2 linked regions of the Homo sapiens genome follow. The protein of the gene in region 2 interacts with the protein of the main gene of each other region in a pairwise test. Each region holds a gene or a part of one and is shown on either strand. Other genes may lie near its edges.

The links.
Region 1: the proteins of CHAF1B (region 2) and PLEKHH1 interact in a two-hybrid assay, tested with the Homo sapiens proteins (one large-scale study listed by BioGRID and IntAct).

What each region holds. Positions count from the first base shown.
Region 1 is NC_000014.9:67,587,616-67,590,301, reverse strand, and holds the end of PLEKHH1 (pleckstrin homology domain-containing family H member 1), read right to left. Parts: 3' UTR 690-2,686; downstream 1-689. Other genes in the region: PIGH (phosphatidylinositol N-acetylglucosaminyltransferase subunit H), read left to right, coding at 130-157.
Region 2 is NC_000021.9:36,412,678-36,416,451, reverse strand, and holds part of CHAF1B (chromatin assembly factor 1 subunit B), read right to left. Parts: intron 3,569-3,774; coding exon 3,137-3,568; intron 1,158-3,136; coding exon 1,063-1,157; intron 178-1,062; coding exon 86-177; 3' UTR 1-85. UniProt on the Homo sapiens protein: Acts as a component of the histone chaperone complex chromatin assembly factor 1 (CAF-1), which assembles histone octamers onto DNA during replication and repair.

The sequences.
Region 1 (2,686 bases), on a different chromosome or scaffold from region 2:
CAGCCTGGGCAACAGAGCAAAACTCTGTCTCAAAAAAAAAAAAAAAAAAAAATTTGCAAGTGGATGCAGCACCACTGCACTCCCTTATATTCTCACCTTGACTCCGCATTTCTCCCCTTTGGAATTCAGAGTGCCAAGCCCCGGCTGGACTGCTTGATTGAAGTATACAGGAGCTGCCAGGAGATCCTGGCACACCAGAAAGCCACATCAACAAGCCCATGAGCCCCAGCGTTCAGAAGGCCAGCATTGTCTTCCATGGGAGATGACTCTTAAGCCATAGGGGCTGGTTTTCCGTACTCCAAACCATCAGGTGGACACAGTCCTAGGAACCATTATGGATGTAGTGCATCTTAGAGCCATAGAGCAGGTGACTGGAAATCTAACTCAGTATATTTCCGTGTATTATAGTGTTTTCCTTGTAAGGTTTTGCCTACTTTACCAAAGGAGGGGAGACCTTAAGAATTTTGACACAGTATGTCAAAAGTAATGTCAGCAAAGAACACTTTCGGAAATTGCTAAGCATGTTCAGGTTTACTTTGTTGATGTTTGTGAAGCAAAACAATGGGAAACTGACATCAGATGTCTTGAGAAAGCTATATTTTCCAATAGTACCCCTTGTGTAAAGTTACGAAAAAAACAAGCCCTTCAGTACTGGTTAGCAGGAAGAAATGTCCTACAAAAGACGAGTCTGTCAACCTAGTGCCTGTGTTCTGTACAGGGCTTATTTATTTACTGTTAATAAACAGATCTTCCAAAACACACAGTTACCTGGTTCACAGATAGCTGCTTTTTATTGACAAACAAGATCATAGTATTTCAGTCATGGTGTCAAGCACATTAATACTTTTCTGTTACTCAGCATTTTTTTTTATATCAGTTCAAAAGCTACTTTTGCCAAGAAGGATGAGACAAAAGGCCAGACAGAAATTGGACTTTGGTTTTCAGACATGGGACTCTCATGTTAACAAAGAATAAATAAGCAAATATTGAATCCTTTGTTTCTAAGTTAGTTTCTTCTGTATAAGATTAATAAACTAAAGGGTTCCTGAAGGGTTGGGGAGGAGAGAGGGTGGGGGAAATAGATTGACCCCAAATTCAGTGTGAACACAGCTCCATTCTTGTTTACTCTTCCTTTGGACTCCTACTTTTCTTCTAAACTCTCTGGGTAGATAATGTTATCCTTATTGGCCTTAGAGATACCCAAGATATTATAAAACCAGAGCTGTTATGTCTGTCACCAGCCCTGCAGGAATTATTCAGGAACCTGTGGTACATGTGACTTGTTCGAGGTAGAAATGTCTCAGCTAGATCCCCAAGTTGTGGGGTGAAAAGTGTGAACAGAAATGGCTGTAAAACTACTTGCCTTGCAAAGTCAAGTACATTTAAAAGAGGCAGAAACTTGGATGTGCTTCTTTTTTCATCATGCTTGTCAGTTTACGGGGTGAGAGAGGAGAAGCTTACAGCAGCTGAGGTGTTCAGATAAACTAGTTCTGGCCTCGCAGTTTTTGCTGTGCAAAAGATACACACATTGTTGGGGTTAAAGGCTTGGTTTTGGGTGCTACTGCTAAATATACAGTTTTCAGCACTTTACTGACATATAGTAAGGCTGCCTTAGAGCTAGGAAATAAAACTCAGTTTCCTAGATGTTGGAAAATCAGAGTATGAACTCTTTCGTTTTGTTTTTGTTAGGGGAGGGTGTGTCTACAACCTGTCTAGAGGAGACTGTCTAGTCTCCTCTGCACTCAATCAGAAGGTCTGAATTGAGGGGGATTATGGTATTATCAGTAAGGCAAAAGATGAAAGAAACTTTTTTTTACCTGCTACTCTTAGGCTAGGGCAAATGTCACATATGTACCCTCACCCTCAAACTAATTCCCAGCAGAAGTTTGCCAGAAGTCTCAAGGAGCATATCCAGGCCCACATGCCTGAAATAGTCTTCTGTGTTTCTGACTCATTTTTGGTGGTCTTACAGCAGCAAAAAGCAGAGTGCATTTGCTTGGTCTTTTACAAGAAGAAGGAAACAAATGATGGCCCACTACAGTGAACACAGCCTTCACCGAGCGCTGTCCAGTCATTAAAATGAGACAGGGAGGGGTCAGATTGGACCTACCTCCTGCCCTTGCTTGCACATTGCGTGGTACTGGGTTTGGCCTAAAGTCCAGTGTGAGGAAAACAGCTTGAATCTTAGCAGGTATAGCATGTTATCCTGCAAAGACTGCCCCAGAAGGGGCTGTACCAATGCCTACATACCAATAATGGGGAAAAATGAGTCTATTCTTTTTTCTCCAACTCTGTCAGCACCTTTCCCATTTGGGAAAGGCAGCCCAGTTTAGTGAGTTCTAGGCTTCTGACAGAGTGTAGGAGAATTGGAAATTTTAGTCCTATCCTGTTTAGCGACGTTCACAAAACTTCAAGTATAAATAAGACCATATACAATATTAAAAAATTAGCTTCTGGGCTGGGCGATGGCTCATGCCTGTAATCCCAGCACTTTGGGAGGCCAAAGTGGGCAGATCACCTGAGGTCAGGAGTTCGAGACCAGCCTGGCCAACATGGTGAAACCCCGTCTCTACTAAAAATACAAAAATTAGCCGGGCATGGTGGCGCACACCTGTAATCCCAGCCACTCCGAAGGCTGAGGCAGGAGAATTGCTTGAACCCTGTGGACTGGGTGACATAGTGACAC
Region 2 (3,774 bases):
GCCCTGGTCTCAGGCACCTCCAGCTTTACCGTCTCCCTGCACACACCGGGAGCCTGGTAGGCTTCGAGCAGAAGCCGAGGTCCCATCAAGGGTCCAGACTTTCCGTGCCTCCTTTGTTTTCATCGAGTCTGGGCCGCTTTAGCTCTGGGGGACTGCCCTGAGCGTCTCCAGGCGTCTCTGCAACATTAACAAACATAAGGTTGGCAAGTAAATGAAGAATTCTGGAAGTCAAGGGCTGACATTTACAGAATACAGAGCCAAGACACGGAACTGAGCTGCCTGGCAAGATCCTATACTGATATAATGGAAGTTCTATAGAGTGGCTCTCAACCAGGGGCGATTTTGCCTCTCAAGGGACAGTGGGCAATGTCTAGTGGCATTTTTGAATGTCATGGGCAAGCTGGGCGCGGTGGCTCACGCCTGTAATCGCAGCACTTTGGGAGGCTGAGGCGGGTGGATCATTTGAGGCCAGGAGTTCAAGACCAGCCTGGCCAACGTGGTGAAACCCCCGACTCTACTAAAAATACAAAAATTACCCGGGTGTGATGGCGCACGCCTGTAGTCCCGGCTACTCGGGAGGCCGAGGCAGGAGAATTGCTTGAACGTGGGAGGTGGAGGCTGCAGTGAGCCGAAATCGTGCCACTGCATTCCAGCCTGGGCGACAGAGCAAGACTGCATCTCAAAAAAAAGAAAAAAAAAAAAAGAATGTCATGGGCAAGAAGTAGCAGCCGGGGATGCTGTTAAACATCGCATAATACACAGGACAGTCCTCCACAACAAAGAATTGCCTGGCCCACAAGGTCAGCAGTCATCAGGTGGAGAAACCTGAGCTAGACAATCTCCTGCTGAACCCACTCCCTGGCTCACCAGGATGCTCTCACTGGCCAGGTGCCCCCTGCTGAGGCGTAAACAGGCAGCCGGCGGGTTTAAACAATGGTTCCAATAAGATGCATCCCTGCTGTCTCAGAACTGACTTAAAATTAGGCGGCATTAATTTCCAAAAGAACAAAAGAAAAGATACTCTACCTTTCATTATATTAAACCAGTAACAATATTACTTACCTGACTGAATTTCTTCTGTAGAAGGGGTGGAAATCACACTGGTTGGTACAGAACTTGGTGGAGTGTCCGTCTTTAAGGGTGTTAAGTTTATTCTCCTTGATTTAAAAAAAAAAAAGTAGAGGGGTGATGGCTCATTAGTATCACAGGAATTGTTTATGTATGATACCAACCTTCAAAACTACCAAAGGAAATACTTAAATTTTCAGCTGAACTTCTGGTTCAAGGCATTAAATAGTAAGATGTGCCCACTTGTTTAATAACTGAGGATTACATTCATGTATTAAGTTAAACCATCACATTTATAACAGTCAACTTAAACCATAACCAGTCATCGAAAAGTTTCAAAACCTGTGTTCTGTTCATTACCGACGGTCTTGTGAACACTCTGCTGGCTGCTGTAAAAGGCAGTCAGATATGGTTTCTATATATAGAAAGCGTCGAAACACAGGTAATACTTTTTTAAAATCCAGAGCGTTGGGCCGGGCAAGATGGTTCGCACCTGTAATCCCAGCACTTTGGCGGGCTGAGGCGGGCAGATCACTTGAGGTCAGGAGTTTTCGACCAGCTTGACCAACATGGCAAAACCTCGTCTCTACTAAAAATGCAAAAAGTCAGCCAGGCATGGTGGCGCATGCCTGTAATCCCAGCTACCTGAGAGGCTGAGGTAGGAGAATCACTTGAACCCAGAAGGCGGAGGTTGCAGTGAGCAGAGAGCATGCCATCGCACTCCAGCCCGGGCAACAGAGCAAGACCCTGTCTCAAATGAATAAATAAATAAATAAAAACCCAGAGTCTTAATTTTCAACAACTATTCTTGTTTGCAAAAGATTACATCTTCAAGAAGCTTGGTAAATAATTCAGAAGAAATCAAGAGGGGAAAAATAATTTAATACCAAAAATAGTTCAAGGAATACCTTCCGTCACATAAAAACAAACAGAAAAATTGTAAAATACATTGCTAATCTGCAGAAAGAAATGAGAGATTTTAAGAGGGCGTTAAAGCCAGCAACCCATACACATATTATGAACTTGCCAAAGAAGACCTATTGGCGCAGGAGAGGCTGAGAGGCACAGGGCGCTTCTGTCCAGCTCACCATCCCCACCACTCCCCTCTGCATCCCCCTTCCCAGCTCTCCTCGTGACTCAGTTTATGGGAAGGTTGGGAGGCAGAGGGCTTGGTGGAGAAGGAACTATACAGGATCAGAGGGGTAACTGGACATCAGCTGCAGGGGAAGAATGGAAACAGGAGGCTGTGCTGCCTGACGGCAGAAGGATGTGCTAAGTGGCTCTGTATCCAGTAGAAGTGGCAGACACAGGCGTGCGTGCCAGCCACACTGATGTAAGCAGGGAAGAAACGACTCTGCACCTCCTGGGGATTATTTGTTATCAGATCAGGACCTCCGTTTCTCACCGACCAGGCTGCTGGAGACATCAAACGCAGTCTCAGGAAGACACTCCTGGAATTGCCTACATCCTGGGCAGAACAGCATAAATAAAAAATGGGACCTGCTTCCTGTCCTTGGGGGCTCACAACCAGCAGGGGAACTGGAGCATCAAAGCACCTGCTATGGAATCTGATGTGTGGTGACAAGGGAAAGGCTGAAGGGCCACAAAGACTGCAAACAGAGAGGGTACATTGAAATGGGTCTTTCAGGAGACTCCTGGCATCACCAAGAGGAAGAGGTGTCCAGGGCTTCCCCAGAGAAGGGAAGGACAGAGGCCTCAAAGGGCAGAGAGTGCTCTGGGAAGATGACATTCAGGACTAGGCCGGAGATGAAGGCCACAGACTCAGGAGAGAGAGTGGCCACAGTCCTGGATGACAGGCTGCAGCCAAATCACAGTCTGTGTGTGTGCATAGGAGCCTGGGCTTTATCTGACAGGCAGAAACTGGAGGAACAAACAGAGGCCTATATGCAAGAAATGACACTCTCGGATTTGAAGTTAAGAATCTCTCTGGCAACCTACTGGCATGAAGCATTCACCGCCTGAAATTTCACCTGCAGCAGGGTGGGAGCGTTCTGTCTGCATTTTGTGTTTCATTTTGCAATGACATCTTGTTCCAACAAGTTCTTACCGGGGTGTTGTCTTGCTCCAGGCTTGCAGTGTGTTCAGAGTGACCCTCCGGGATGGGTGGGCTTTTGTGTTTTGACTACTGGGCTGCAGGGTCTTCTCCTCCGAAGGCCCCGGCAAGGGGCTTTTGACAGCAGGAGTGATGGAGGGAGGGTCCCTGATGACTGTTGGGGCTGGGGCCTGTCTGGCCTGAGGGGGAGTCGTGCCGGGGCTGCTGGGGTCTTGGGTTCTGCTGGCAGGGGTTCCCTCTACCGGTCTGGGTCCTGGCGAAGACCCTCGATGTGTCTGACTCTTGGTTTTCTTTGCTGTATCAGGAGTTCTCATGTTCAAAACTGGCTTCTCTTTCAAAGGAATTCCAAGTTCATCTTTCTCAAATGTCACAAATGAGCAGTAACCGTCCGTGGAAGAAATGGCCAGGAAGGCACCATCGCTGGACCTTCGTCCCCAAAACAGGGAAAAGTTACAGACCTTACCAACACTCTCACATCTACTTAGAAGAGGGAAGTTCGAGCAAAATCACAAGCTTGTTTGAAGGCAAAAACCAGGGAAAAGATACAACTGGAAAAGAGTGTGTGATAGCGACTCACTCATGCAGTTTCATCGCGATTTGCTAAGTCGCTGCAACCTATCTGTGCTACTAGC